2 separate regions of the Homo sapiens genome follow, and region 2 is linked to region 1. The links come from fine-mapping of genetic effects on gene expression. Tissue or cell type: whole blood. Region 1 holds a variant in brackets; the other region holds the start of a gene. All regions are shown on one strand. Distances are from middle to middle.

Evidence for each region. PIP is the estimated chance that this variant, and not a neighbour inherited with it, causes the effect.
Region 2: it holds the start of CNTLN, and the variant in region 1 is fine-mapped to the expression of CNTLN in whole blood (TOPMed, PIP above 0.99).

Annotation. Positions count from the first base shown.
Region 1 is chr9:17,442,610-17,450,719 of GRCh38, forward strand. The region is part of intron 18 of CNTLN (centlein); the gene reads left to right. It also overlaps the pseudogene SAMM50P1. Among named protein-coding and RNA genes, the nearest start is that of SH3GL2, 130 kb to the right of the region's middle. The variant C/T (reference allele first, on the strand shown) is at 4,839.
Region 2 is chr9:17,130,275-17,138,384 of GRCh38, forward strand. It overlaps CNTLN (centlein), which reads left to right and starts at 4,766. Exons shown (of 26, transcript NM_017738.4): 1 at 4,766-5,151. The coding sequence starts at 4,792. RefSeq lists an enhancer at 5,047-5,610.

The DNA.
Region 1 (8,110 bases):
GCTGGTCTCAAACTCCTGACCTCAAGTGATTCACTCGCCTTGGCCTCTTAAAGTGCTGGGATTACAGGTGTAAGCCACCATGCCCAGCTAAACCAAACACTCTTAAACAACCAATGGGTTAAAGATGTCACAAAGAAAATTAGAAAATACCTTGAGACAAATGAAAATGAAAACATAACATACCTGAATTTATGGGCTGCAAGCATAAGCAGTTGTAAGAGGGAAGTTTATGTACTGTACACTTGAAAATTTGTTAAGAAAGTAGATCTCATGTTTTTTTACCACAATAAAAAAGGTAAAAATTTTCTGATAAAATTAAATATCTGTTCATGATAAAAATTATCTTAGCAAACTAGGACTAGCAGGGAACTTTCTTATTCTGTTAAAAGGTGTCTACCAAAAACCTGAAACAGTTCTGTTAAAAGGTGTCTACCAAAAACCTGAACTAGCCATCATACTTAAAGAAGTTAGATGCATTCTTTTTGAAATCAGGAAGAATACTTCTATGCCTGCTATCATTGTTTGTCTTTGATGTTGTACTTGAGTACCTAACCAGCACATTAATATAAGAGACAGAAGTGAAAGTTAAATATATTAGAAATGAAGAAACAAAACCATCATTAGTTCCCATGCATTATGCTTGTCTCCACAGAATCTGAAGACAAATTACTATAATTAGTAAGAGATTTCAGCAAGATTGCTGGATCAGTAATATACAAAGATAATAGGACTCATATTCACCAGCAATCAACAGAATATGCAATTTAAAAGAAAAATATTGTTTAAATAATAGCAGGTATTGTGTGGTATCTAGGAAGGGAAGTTGTATTACAATTTCAGGGATTGTTAAAATGTGAAATAGTGTCTTTAAATTGCTATATGGTTGAGGAGTCTATATGTGTATATATTCTAAAAGTATAAAGAAAGGTAAGGGAAAAATAAACAACAAAGTTATTCAGGATAGTGATTATTTCTGGTGGATCAGGAGAGACGTTCATAGCTTCAACTGTATTGGTAATATATTGTCTTAGTTGACTGGTTAACACATGGGCATTCATTGTATTTTTCTTTATATACCTATGGTATATTGAAATATTTCATTAAAAATGAAGAAGGAAATCTACTGATGTCATTAGCCCAGAGAAAGAATGCTGGAGGTGGAACAAATCTTTGCAGCAAGATCTTAAGTTTGGGGGAGTTATCTGCTATATGGGCAAAGAGGAGTCAGAGAAGGAGATCCAAAAGAACTGTACAGAGAATGTGGAGGAAAAATTGAGTACTTTAATAAAGAAACAAGGGAGAGAAAGTTTTTAACAAGAAAAAGAGAAGCTTTGGTCAACAGTGTCAGATCCCATAGAGGAACTGATAATAGAAAACTGAGAAGAGACTGTTGGACTTTACTAAGAAGACTGTATTAACAAGACTGTCTTGATAGCAAGTGATAGAAACAGACTTCAAACTAACATAAGAAAAAAAACACAAAATCAAAGGATGAACTGTAGATCATAGACTTGGTAAAGGTACAGAAAATTGCAGACAGACACTCTAATGTTTTTAACGCTTCTTTCTCACATCTCTTCATTCCAGACCAGACCAGCTTTCTCCATGCAGCTCTGGCCATGCGTATTGGCCATGTGGTAAGCCTACATTCTTATAGCTCTACCTCAGAGAAGGAAAGAACTTCTCTGCTTAAATTTGGGGAGCCACAGGAATACAAATACTTTGTCTGTATGTCATTTTGAGTTAGGATTTAGGTTATTTCATTATATGTTAATTGTCACCTACATGAGTAATTGACAGGAATTTCAGAGTCATGAGGGTACAGAGTAGTTTCTATTGGGCAGGACTGATTTATACATTGCAGTACTTATGTATTCTTTGCTGTCACCCACTTCAGTTGCCAATCATTGTGGCACTCAAAAGTGCCCCAACAAATTTCCAAAATACACACACATCTGGGTAGTATGTACTATTTGAGAACTACTGATTTAGAAGAAAAGCAGATCAACTGGCTTGATTAATAAAAATGGAAGAACACCTAGACTTACCCTCTTACTAAAGATCTACATGAATCATTGTCCTTGATGTAGCATAACTGCCTGAGAGTCAGGTATTTATTTGACTTTATTTATTGAGTGACCTACTTTGTTAGGTCAAGCCTTTTTACTTGAAAGAATATGATAAACAGAAAACAATTCTGAATAGAAAATGAAGGGAAGGCTGATGGTAGAAGTTCCTATGTGGAATTTTGTGTGTTGGAAAAAATAGCTTTTCAGTGAAATCTATGAGAAATACCTTGAATAATATAGTATAGGTCAAAACTTTGCAAATCTCTTTTTTCTATATAAAGGAAATTTCTACTCTATGCTATGAAAGACTTTTTTTGGTAATTTTTACATATGTTGGTCCTTAGTTTTTTAAAATCCCATTTTAAATGGTATCAGTAACTTTTTATTTTATCAAATCCAAAGATTTTTAAAAGTCCTTTCTAAAAATGTCCATTTTTCACTATCTTGAACCTTATGAAATTTATACAGGGAATAGAAAAAAACATTATTGCTTCTCTTGAGAATTTTTATAGGGTATATTTATAAATGATCAACATGATATGAATACTTAGTACTGCTGCTGTTAAATTTGTAATGAGTTGTAGGGTTTTGAAATTCCCTGACTGGCTTTCATCCAAGCACTTTATTTGCAAGACTTAGATACGGTACAACCAACGAGAGACATACAGTTAACTATTGACCCTGTGGGGAAAAGCAAGAGAGATCAGATTGTTACAGTGTCTGTGTAGAAAGAAGTAGACATAGGAGACTCCATTTTGTTCTGTACTAAGAAAAATTCTTCTGCCTTGAGATTCTGTTAATCTATAACCTTACCCCCAACCCCGTGCTCTCTGAAACATGTGCTGTGTCAACTCAGAGTTAAATGGATTAAGTGCGGTGCAAGATGTGCTTTGTTAAACAGATGCTTGAAGGCAGCATGCTCCTTGAGAGTCATCACCACTCCCTAATCTCAAGTACCCAGGGACACAAAAACTGCGGAAGGCCTCAGGGACCTCTGCCTAGGAAAGCCAGGTATTGTCCAAGGTTTCTCCCCATGTGATAGTCTGAAATATGGCCTCGTGGGAAGGGAAAGACCTGACCATCCCCCAGCCCGACACCCGTAAAGGGTCTGTGCTGAGGAGGATTAGTAAAAGAGGAAGGAACGCCTCTTGCAGTTGAGACAAGAGGAAGGCATCTGTCTCCTGCCTGTCCCTGGGCAATGGAATGTCCCGGTATAAAACCCGATTGTATGCTCCATCTACTGAGATAGGGAAAAACCGCCTTAGGGCTGGAGGTGGGACCTGCGGGCAGCAATACTGCTTTGTAAAGCATTGAGCTGTTTATGTGTATGCATATCTAAAAGCACAGCACTTAATCCTTTACATTGTCTATGATGCAAAGACCTTTGTTCACGTGTTTGTCTGCTGACCCTCTCCCCACAATTGTCTTGTGACCCTGACACATCCCCCTCTTCGAGAAACACCCACGAATGATGAATAAATACTAAGGGAACTCAGAGGCTGGCGGGATCCTCCATATGCTGAACGCTGGTTCCCCGGGTCCCCTTACTTCTTTCTCTGTACTTTGTCTCTGTGTCTTTTTCTTTCCTAAGTCTCTCGTTCCACCTTACGAGAAACACCCACAGGTGTGGAGGGGCAACCCACCCCTACAGACCCTATCATGAAAATATTTCCGTTTTTAAGTATTAAGATGTAATTCATATTTAGGATATATTTAAGAAACATATGTCTTTCGCTAGCTTGAATATATGAATTTGGAGCTGCAAATGATGATCTTTAGCCTTTGACTCTATAACCCCCAAAGTTGGTAATATTTAATTTAGATTAATGTGATAATGTAGTCTTCCTAAGAACTGATTCAAATGTAATTTAATGTTTATATTCATACTTTTCAGAGGCTTACTGAGAAATTCTTTATCTTATAAAATTTAAATTTCAGAAATATATCATGGTCTATTATAAATTTTTAGAAGTCAAAAATTATTCTAAGGAATACTGATGCCTCTCTTTTGAAGCTTATGTAGGAATTAAGTATTATGAGCAATTTAATACTATATATGGATATTGATTTCCTCTGGCTAGTCCACAAAGGCCTTTTAGAGCAATAAAATACCATAAAATAAGAAGTAATACTATTGTAATAGCACACCACAAGGACAAGAAAACAGTCAAATAAAAGTATTGAAATCTGATTTCTAGGAAAACCAAGTTTAATCAGAGATGAATCAGCAGTCTTCATGAGACTTCTGCAGATATTTCATAGTCTGTTTCTGATAACTCAGTCATTATAATTGTACTTTAAAAGTTATGGCCTCTTTTCATGTGTATGTCTTTAAAATTTATGAATGCGGTATTTCACATAGACTGCAGTCAAAGAATCTCTCATCCGCATTTACTCTGAGAGAAATTGCCTGGTGGGCAACTCACTGCCATCAGGGTCCCAGAGCTTCTCCCGCTGCGGTGTCAGCTACAGGAACCTTATCCCAGCTCAAAACTAGATGCTATCACATATCCTGTTGCCTGTCTGCACTCCCATAGGAAAGTAGTAATTAAGTTCCAACAGAGCCATGTTGCCAAGCCTAAAGACAATCCTGGTGCCATAAAACTGGCAGATACATTCAGCCAGCTCACGAATACACTTTGGGGCCCTCCCCATAGTTGAGGTTGCAGAGGTTTCCTGTGTTGAGAAAAAAGTGTTTGGAAAAGTTCTCCCAAACTGCCCTGGCTTGGCTTTAAACGTGTTGGCGTACACAGTTGCGGTCCGCTGGCC[C/T]AGCGTGCTTCTCCACCTAGGTGGTCGCCTGCACTCTGCTCCGGTGCTGTGCATGCTGAATCCTTGGACACTTGTTGGTCCCCCAAGGTGAAACTATCAGCAGGACTCACAGTTTATCACCATGGGTGCCAACATCCCACCTCAGAGAATTGCTGAAAAAACTGAATCAAATATGAGTGGTTTATTCAACTGAAGTTCAAAATCTTTGATGAAGCTTATATCCCTTGTAGTGTAGCCTGTCAGTTCCTGGTTAACTTTCAGCAAAACACATTTTCTTGGTAAGATGGAAGAATTCTGAAAATCGATGACCATGGCATGTGAAAGACATGATTTAAGTGAATGTCTGCCTTACTTTCAAACAGCAAATGATGCTGTCCTTAAGTGACAGCCCAGGTCTCGCCACATGCCTTTCCAATTGTTGGTGTGGCTGGTCTTTCATATGGGAAGACTGTACTTGGCTGATCATCTTCTGTTCATTTCCGGAAGTGAGCTCCAAGGGAACTGTTCAGTAACTTCATGTAAGTTTACAGATAAATTCCTTTTGAAGTTTCCGGGCCATGGTTTGAAGAAAGGCCATGGGAAGCGTCTTTTGTTCCATGGGAAAAATGAAAAGTCGCCTTTTCTGCATAACCTAGAAGATCAGGGAGTTTGAGGCCAAGTACCGTACTCCCTTCATTGTTTCCAACCATGGTGTTTTAACTGCCCATTAATTTCCTTAATTCAGTTACTTCAAAGGTAACATCTAACCCATTTGGAAATGCATTGTCACCTTGACATGTATCACTCAAAAAATTCACTTGTCTAAAAAATTCCTGGATGAAGAAATTTTTCACGGGCTTCATGAGAATTCCACATTACCTCAATGAGATTTTTAGCCTTAAAAACATCTCCAGTTTTACAAACGGTGATATTATCTTTATTTAGTCCATCCAAGCCCATAAAAATGGGCATGTTGAACAGCCAGATCTTTGTTTTTAAGAATTTCCTGTTTAGCTTCACTTTCACCTTCAGCAAATTCAGTTTCATTTTCTGATGCTCCAAAGCCAGATCCTCTTGGTGGAAGAGGCTCCAAACTCTGCGTGTACAATGTCCTCAGGCTTCCTTCTCCTGCTGCCACCTCATAGAGCTCCCCAGGCCTGACCAAGCCTTGGTTATGAGGGCAGGAGGCTGCCGTTCTTTACTTAGATACAGATAATGCTGTTAACATCACCCTGAAACATCAAGTATTATTTTTGTTGATCTGGCATGTTTATTTTTTTTCTTGGTTCTTTGAGTGGACATTCACTTAAAACATCTTTAAATTGGGATGGATTCTTTTCTTCTTACTGCCACTCAACTCCAGTAACAAAAAAATATTGACAAAGAGGGTGAAGGAAGAATATAATTAAAGTGGTGAATAGTAAATAGGACATGTGAGGAATAGCTATTTCTATGTTGAATTAACTGAATTTAAGCAGGAGAAGGAGAGTGAAAAAGAGGAGTTCCGAAAGACATTGCACAGTTTCTCCTTTAGGACATCAAATAGCGCTACCATCCTCTTTCTTTCCTATTGAGGAAAGGAGTCAGAATGGGTATGCATTGCAACCTCATAGTCATTAGTAAGCATGTCATATGTAAGTCTCGTGTTTAGGAGGGCTATGACTGAACTCATAATATTACCATATAAACATTGAGAAATTATGTTGGTAGTGAGGATGATGAATTATTCTGGATATACTTTTGGTTCCCATTATCTGTCCCAGTATTTAGTACCTGGTATTTAGTTTTCAAGAGAGCTTTTCTTCTACCATTAGGTATATCTCCCAGTGCTATCCCTCCCTCCTCCCCCCACCCCACAACAGTCCCCAGAGTGTGATGTTCCCCTTTCTGTGTCCATGTGATCTCATTGTTCAATTCCCACCTATGAGTGAGAACATGCGGTGTTTGGTTTTTTGTTCTTGCGATAGTTTACTGAGAATTAGTGGGTGCAGCGCACCAGCGTGGCACATGTATACATATGTAACTAACCTGCACAATGTGCACATGTACCCTAAAACTTAAAGTATAATAATAAAAGAAAAAAAAAAAGAGAGAGCTTTTCTTCTCGTAACTTAAACAGAAGATTTGAAATAACAACAAACCAACAGTCAAACTCTTTTTTCTGTGAATAGACAAATGTTTATTTTTCCCGTGAATACTTGAAAGTCAATTGTATTAGTTGACTTTCTAAATTTCACATATAACGTGTTTTTACTATCCATTATTTTCCCCATACTTGTGGGAACAGAAGTTTAAGTGATGTGGTTCAACAAATCCAATTAAAATGCGTTCATTTAGTTATTCAGATTATTTTGAAAGACACTACCTTGCTAATATCACATAGGTTAAAATTTGCTATAAAGGCATATAATGTTAAAACTATTCATATAAATTAAAAGTACTTGTTAAATGTTTTGAGTATTTTTGGTCTTTCAGAATTAAAAGTATTAGTAAACTGTTTTGAATAATTTGACACTTGAAATAATAGTGTTGATTTTCATTTTGAGAAATATTTAAACACAGTTACAAAATATTTAATTGGACATTAGCTAGAACTTGTGTTACAAAGTATAAGGGCATTGAATTAATTTAACTCCTTGTAAATGTTATTGAGAGTAGCGTATCTCTTATCCATATGCAGATATCCATATTTCTCTGATAGAACCTAATTTGAACACATCAAGACAGATTGGCATTTTCAGACCCATAAAAAAACTGCTTTGTTAATTGTAAACCATATTTAGTATGACCTTATAACAAAGTAGCACCTTAAGTGTCATGCTGTGTCTTTAATGTGCACACTGGAGCTGGGTTCATCTGTAGCAGACAACTACACTTCATGAAAAGAGTTTTTTTTTCTTGATAGGCAATTAGCAGTAATTAGGAAGATTCACCTCAATAAGATGTCAACATGAGATTGTTTAAAAAAGTTGAATGTCAGTGACTTAAAAAAGAAAGTTCCTCTGACACCTATGTATGGCATGTGAAACATGAAATGTTAATTTAACTTTTCTGCTTATTATTCATGCACAATATTATTTTGTCATTCAGACTCTGCACTGACAGAGTGTAAGGGTGTTAAAATAGTGTTGCTGGAATAAAAAGAGGATTAATCTACCATTGGCCAATTAGCCAAAAGGTACTTAATGGTCTCTAAAGGCTACTGAAGTCTAACTACTAGCAAAAGCATTGGTGAAAAGTCCTCTATATTACCTTCATTTGCTTGACATTTTGTGAAACATAGTGTAGCCCTT
Region 2 (8,110 bases), 310 kb before region 1:
CAGGTCATTGGCAGTGGAAAAAGAAGGCCTTCATGTTTAGGAAAAAATCAGGGGAGAAAAAGGGCTGGAAGAACTGGAGTACTTTTGTAATACTGCTTTGAGGATAAACAATATTCTATTAAAATACCTAGGACCATGGGTGTATAATCCCATCTATTAGGGAGGAGGAAATTTAAATATAAATGAGAAGGCTGAAAACGTAGGGTGTTGCCTCACTGTGGTCGTGTGTTGAAATGAAGAGCTGAAACTATGCAACCCTGTGTTTTGTGGAACCAACTGAACTTCTCAGGGAAACGCACTATATTCCAAACTTTTCTGAACTAAATAAACTGATACAAGTTACTCAAACCTAAGGCTTACAGGTTACTTCCCCTGTGCCCCCACCGAACAACCCACACACTTAGAGTTGGGGTTCAGTGGAGATAATTTTTGCTTATAATTAGAAAAAACAACAGATGTTTGAACAGTTTTGCACTGTTTGACAACCTTTGGAGATGAAAATGGAAAATGAAATTCTTTCATAGCTCTGTTGGGTCATAATTTTTGAAAAGGAACTGATGATATCTCCTTGTATACCTATAATTGTGACCTAGAGCATTCTCAGGACTGATCAGGGGATCAATAGTTGCCAGGAATTGCTCAATCAAAATTGCGGTAATTGAAAGCACAAAACAATCCTCTTTATTTACCTCTACTAACTTCTGGATTGAGATTTGTCCACACTAGGCTGTCATGATGCATCTACTACTGACTCAAGCATCACATCGGCACATTCTAGCTTATGGATTTTTCTTTTGATGCTGAAGCAAGTGATTCTTGATTTAAATCTCTAGGACATGGCAAAGACTAAAAACTGAGATAAATTCCTAAAATGATATGAAAAGAAATCTAAGATGTTTGAGGTCTTACCAATACCTAATAGTGTTTTAAAACTTAATTAAATTATGCTGACCAAATAAAGATTACACAAAACTGGTAAAGCAGAAATACATGGGTTTTAAAATTCTTCATTCTTTCTGGAAACAAAGAAACATAAAGGCTGAGAAACGGCTAATACATTTTTTCTCTTTTAAAACAGAAGTTAAAAATAAATTTTAAAAATTAAAGTAAAAGAGGCAATTTAAGTACCATATTAATTGGCACATTTCTTCCATTATTTCCCAAGATTTCGACTATACAGTGATGATATTGAGAGAATTATGTGTTTCTCTATTCTAATATACTTAATCCTCAGCAGACTTCATTATGTATTTCTTCAGAACAGACACTATCACTTTTAAATATTAGGACAAAGAGTTGAACAGGAAAAACACCTTGATTGTTTTGCACATTTTTATTCACATAGCAGTGCAGATATTTAACTTATCCTTCTGAGTCATAAGTGTTTGTATTTAACATTTCATCCGTTTCTGTCATTTCAGCAAATAACTAATACAAGAAAGAACTCCTTATGCATACTTCTAGAAATGTGCACGTTTCTTTTCTTAAAAATTGTCTGCCAGTAAAGAACTTTTATAACTCTACAACAAAAAGACAAATAACCCAATTAAAAAATAGCAAAGAACTTGAATAAATAGATATTTCTCCAAAGAAGAGAAACAAATGTCCAAAAAATACATGAAAATATGCTCATTGTCATTAGTCATGGGGAAAAATACAAATGAAAACCACAAGGAGACAGCACTTTACACCCACTAGACTGGCCATAAAAAACAAACAACAACGCATGCTCTCACTCATAGGTGGGAATTGAACAATGAGAACACTTGGACACAGGGTGGGGAACATTACACACTGGGGCCTGTCATCGGGTGGGGGGAGGAGGGAGGGATAGCATTAGGAGATATACCTAATGTAAATATGAGTTAACGGGTGCAGCACACCAACATGGCACATTTATACCTATGTAACAAACCTGCACGTTGTGCACATGTACCCTAGAACTTAAAGTATAATTTAAAAAAAGCAAATGACACAAAACTAAAACAAAAAATAAGTGTTGGTGAGGATGATGAGAAATTAGAATGCTAATACATTGCTTATGGGAAGGTAAAATGACACAACCACTGTGGAAAAGAGTTTGGTGATTCCTCAGTAAATTAAACATATGACCTAGACATTCTACTCATAGGTATATAAACAAAAAATTGAACATAAATGTTCAGACAAAAACCTGTACGTGAATGTTTATAGCAGCTCTGTTCACAATAGGCAAAAGGCAGAAAGAACCCAAAGGTCCATTAACAGATGAATGGATAAACAAAATGGAGGATATCCATACAATGGTATATTTTCAGCTATAAAAAAGAATGAAGTACTAATACATGCCATAACATAGATGAACCTTGAAAACATTATGCTAATAAAAGAAAACAGACACAAAAGGCCACATATTATATGGTTCCATTGATATGAAATATCCCAAACAGGCAAAACCGTAGAGACATAAAGGGAATTAATGGTTGCTTGGGGCTCGGGGGCAGTGAGAATGTGGAGAGACTAATGTGGGTATGTGGTTTCCGCCTCCGGTGATGAAAATATTCTGGAACCAGATAGTGGTGGTGGTTGCCTAACATGGTGAATGTAGTTAATGCTGCTGAATTGTTTTTTATTTGTAGCCATTTTATTTATTTATTTATTTTTTGAGACAGTCTTGCTTTATCACCCAGGCTGGAGTGCAGTGGTATGATCTTGGCTGTTTGCAACCTCTGCCTCCCGTGTTCCAATGATTCTCCTGCCGTGGCCTCTCTAGTAGCTGGGATTACGGGAATGCACCACCACTCCCAGCTAATTTTTGTATTTTTAGCAGAGACGGGGTTTCACTATGTTGTCCAGGCTGGTCTCGAACTCCTGGTCTCAAGTGATCCACCAGCCTCGGCCTCCCAAAGTGCTGGGATTGCAGTCGTGAGCTACCACGCCTGGCCTATTTGTAGCCATTTAAAATGCCTACGATGGTAAATTTTATGTTGTGTATTTTGTGTATTTTGCTCCAATAAAGACAAAATTTAAAAAAATGCCTAGTCAAAGAGTCAGGATATTATCCTTTTGGGAGGTCACATATACATATTTATACCACTGCTTTTCAAAAGGATCTTTTTATGATCAGGTGAAATGATGTCCTTTTGAGTGAATGACATACAGCAATTAAAAATGTGCATTAATACTGATTTGGGGCCAAACACGTAACTTATGTGGTTAGACTTCCCAGTCTTAAGTCTAGTGAAATCTCACAGACTATCAAGACCAAATGTTGTATTTCAAGTCACAGGTGTGGAGACAGGGTAGCGATCAAAGTACAGGTTTTCAGAGTTAAGTGGAATTCAGTGAATTCAAAGCCTAGCTTTTCTGATACCAGACATGGCACTTCAGAGAAGTTACAGTAACCTTGCAAGTCTGTTTCCTCACTAGTAAAAATGGAGATATATAATAATCTAATTGAAGGTGACATATGTATTAAGTGAGTTCATATATGAAAAGTGCTTAGCACTGGACTCAGCATATGGTAAATGTTCAGTAGGTTAGCTAGTTCTAAGACAGGCTTATAAACATACTTTTTCTAATGTACTCTTTAATAAGTTTTTGTGAGGAATTCACCTTCAGTTTGAAAGAAGTCCACTTATCTTGGTTGCCTTGGCAGGATTCTAATTGGGAGGGTGTCTTTTGGCATCCTGACTAGATTCTCATGCAGAGATGGTGATATTTTGGTTAAATGAAGTTAACAGTAAAGTGGTCATCTCTCTACTTCTGCTCTCAACCCCCATCTCAGCTTTCCCCAAGTATTCTGGAACCCTTTCTGAAGAAGAGGGCAGTTCTAACTTTCAGGGATGTTCTGGTGCCAGCTCAATATGCATCTCATTAATCTTATCAATAGTAACAAAGTATTTGAAGGGCAAAGAAAGATACGATTACTACCTATTTGAAGTTTATAAAGAAAGCCAGAAGAAAAAGAAAAAAAAGAGAACAAAAGATAAAGTAGGTCTTGTTTCTTCATCCACGCTCCAAATTACTGATTTCAAACTGCTCCAAGGACCCAAACTGTTCAGCAATGTGGGCTACACTTCCTCTGATATCCAGCCAACGCATAAAGAAGCTGACATAAAAACTCAAAGGAAATCATGACTCCTGCAAAACAAAAGACAAAGGGTGTACAAAGGATCATCATTCAAGTTGGAAACCTGCTTGATAGTCCCAGATCAGCACAAGGCTTTCCACATCTCCTTGACATTAGTCAGCTGGATGTCAGCTGTACTAAAGCAGTTTTGCCAAGGGGTGTGAAGAAAACACTTAAGTGTAAAACGTATTCCTTGATCCTCAAGGAGCTTACAACAGGGCTGGGGAGATTAGCCGTGTAACTGACACTCCAGGGCGGTCAATGAAACGTGTCACACGAGTTGGCAGGGGCCTTGAAGGAGAGGGATTTCACAGTTAAGGATCATTTGGGGCTGGGGGCTTGTCAAGGAAGGCTTTAAGAGGTGGGATGTAAGTGGCAGGCAGGGCTTTAGGTGGGCGGGAAATCCAGGCGATCCTGGCCAAGGACTCAGGCACAGGACGCTGGGATGGCCTGCCCGGCGGACCGGCCTTACCCTTTCGGGCCACGGCGCGTGCGTACCCCAAGGCTCGCGCTGGGCGCATTGCCCGCGGGAAGCCGGCCAGGACCAGAGAACACGGGACACCGCGGGCCAAGGCGGGAAAAGCCTCGCGCATGCGCGGTTCGGCGTTCCGGGCTCGCCGGGTTGGGGAAAGGGAGGTGGAGTTTCCAACAGGGAACTTGACCCGTTAGCAGCCGCAGCCATGGCGGCGCGTTCGCCTCCCTCACCGCACCCTTCGCCCCCAGCGCGACAGCTGGGCCCCAGGTCCCCACGTGTTGGGCGGGGAGCTGAAGTACACGCAATGCGCAGCGAGGCCTCGGGTTTTGCCGGCGCAGCGCGGGAGGTGGTCGCGGACGAAAGTGATAAAATCTGGGTGGGTGAAGAAGGGTCAGGGGGCCGGCGAGGGCCTGGGGGGGCAGCTCCGGCTCATGCTCCCCTCCTCAGCGCGCCCATGGGGTCCAGACGGCTAGAGGGCATCTCGGTAGAGGAGGCGATGGTGACCCGGACGCAGCTGCTGGAGGAAGAGCTGAGCAGCCTAAAGGAGGAGTTGGCCCTGTGTCAGGTATCGAGGAGTCTCGCAGTCCCCCTTTCCCCACCACAGCGGGGCCGGGACCCGTGGGGAGGCGCGCCTTTCTCCCTCTGCCTTGGGACCTACCCCGCCCAGCGACGCTCCCTGGCAGATGCACACCCTGCTTCGCTCGCGGCCGGGGGCTGGAGGGACGCGGCTGCGCCCGGCTCCCCAAACCCGGGCCCCTGCCCCTTTCCGAACTGCGGCCAGACAGGCTTCGCCTCCGCGCCCGGGTTTGGTTTTGGTCACTTGGATACTCGCAGTCGCATCCTCTCCGCTTCCCCCCCAAGCCCAAGTTCTTGGTGGTGACGGTAGCTGATACCTGCCGGGGGCCCAGGAGTGACATGCAGTCCACTAGTTGAAATGAACAGGAAAGTGTAAACACTTCGGTTAGAGTAAAATCCATCGATGAAGGAGCCTGTTTTTAAAATTTCAAACCCACACTTGGCTTTGTTTTTACCCAGTCAAACTTAAGTTGTAAACACAGACGAGTAACGTTTAGAAAGTCTCAGAGCCGGGAACTTAACAATAGATGATGCTTGGTACTTGTTTATTAACCAGCTATGGTAATTCCGCGGTCCTTGAGTGAGAAATCACATTTTCATGTGATCTTGCCAGTGAAAAACATTTGCTAAATCAATTGCATTAAAATTACTTTCCTGTTTGTAGAGTTTTTGTAAGGATGGACTTGACTATACTCATGTTCAAAGAGATTGAATTTTCCTTTAGTTTTGCATCCTTACCATCATCTCTTTTGATTTTACCAGAACCTTTAGATAGGGTTGGGAGATTGGATGTGGGAAACTCACTGAACAGTAGATCTTTAAGTCACTCTGTCTTCAACTTAGAAACCAATTAGGAGCTGCTGAACATCAAAGTAACTTTGTGAACAGTATCATCAGTTTAATAAAACAGTTCATGAAATTCATTCTCTGTCGCCCAGGCTGGAGTGCAGTGGTGCAGTCTCAGCTCACTGCAAGCTCCGCCTCCCGGGTTCACGCCATTCTCCAGCCTCAGCCTCCCGAATAGCTGGGACTACAGGTGTCCGCCACCACGCCTGGCTAATTTTTTGTATTTTTAGTAGAGATGGGGTTTCACCGTGTTAGCCAGGACAGTCTCGATCTCCTGACCTCGTGGTCCGCCAGCCTTGGCCTTCCAAAGTGCTGGGATTACAGAAATTCATTCTCTCATAGTTTGTTCTGTTGGATTCTTTTGCCCATTTTATAGGTCCTTGCTGACTGAGTGAAGGGTGTAAAAATGGGACCATCTTCAAATTGAATGTGCCTTTGGTTAAACAAGGTTGGGACATTTAATATGGTGCCCTCTTTTCGTTTTACCATTTTTCTGTTCTTCGTTGGATAAGGAGCAAAGGGATAAATAAATGACAACAATGAATTGAAGCATTTGTCATCTGCAGACCTCACCCTTTGGGGAGTTTTAAGATGTGAACCCATGATAAAGGCCTTTGATACTCTGAGTCCTAATCTAAGACACTCTTTGGCATATTTTCCGCACTCTTTCCTCCCACTTCTGCCTCCCCACATAGTTAGGCCTTTAGCTGGCTAAAGAGCTAAGATACTTTTTTATGACCGACTTGGTTAAGGAAGTCAGTCTATTGGAAACAGCCTGATGAACCTCTTCCCACAAATACTTACATTCTTTAAAAATGTGGCTCCAAACATGGTGTTGGCTTTTGTGACCTCGGACATATATAGACTAGGAAAATGATTGACATACTCTTGGCAAATGTAAGAATACAGAGATGGTCATAATAGTCTAGAATGATGATCTCTTAGATTTTGTAATATTAATACTCTTATATAATTGTAGGCAGTATCCCGCACCATAAAAATCTTAGTCAAATCAGACTCCTGCTCTTCGGGAATCTTGGGGAAAAATAGTAATTGAACTCCCAATTGTTTTGTAAAAAGCATTTAGGTGATTAAATATTCACTTTTATATCTTTTAAAGTATACTCTCCCGCTTATTTATTCAGCTAGAGATCACAGTACCCAAGAATACATAGCATTAAAACTGCTGAAAATTACAACTCGAAGTAAAATTTTGTATCTCAATCTAGTAAGTACACACATATACAAACATATATTTTCAGAAAGAATACATGCCCTAATACTGTGTGGGCTGATATTTTTTCAGTTCTATTCCTTTAAAAAATGCTGTCCAGATCTAAATTAATTTCAGAACCCAACAAGGCTTGAAACATACAGTTTAGGAAAAAGAACACTGCTAATTAGTCCATGGTCATAAGTAGTAGCTTCATTTAATTTGTTTTGCTTTCACATTCAACTTATGGGAATTCAGTGATGTGTGCTTGGTGAAGTTTGAGTAATTCCCCATACCATTCTACATCATTGGAATGCCTCAGAATAAGCATGTAATAGAAAGCAATCAAATGTTTCTCTTAATATCAGCATCTCATCCCACTCTAAGTGATTGTATTATCTAATTAAACTTTAAAAAAATATGGCCCCCTGATTAGCAACTGAACTATAAATAATGCTTATATGAAGAAAAAGTGATTAATTTCAATGAGGGAAGAAAAGCTATCTGTATTGGACTTACTGAGGGTAGTAGGTAAGCTTCCAAATGTAGCTTTTTCCTAAGGAATTTTTCAAGGGTGTTCCAAAGGGTAATTTTGCATCCATGGCATTTAATGCCCTATTTCACTAATTTAGAACCTAACTCCACTACACTTTTAATTTTGATTATATATTTCAAGAATGTGTTCTGTTTGTGATAAAGGATGCTGGGGCATGTGTATTTGTACATTTATCACCATTTATAGAGTGAGATGAGAAAAAAGTGTTATGTTTACATAGAAAGAGTAATATGTTTATATAGCATTTATAAAGCTTATTTTTTGGTATCAGGCAAAAATATTGACTAAACCTATAAGCCAGTTTTAGGAAAAAAATTAGGGTATTTAAATGAA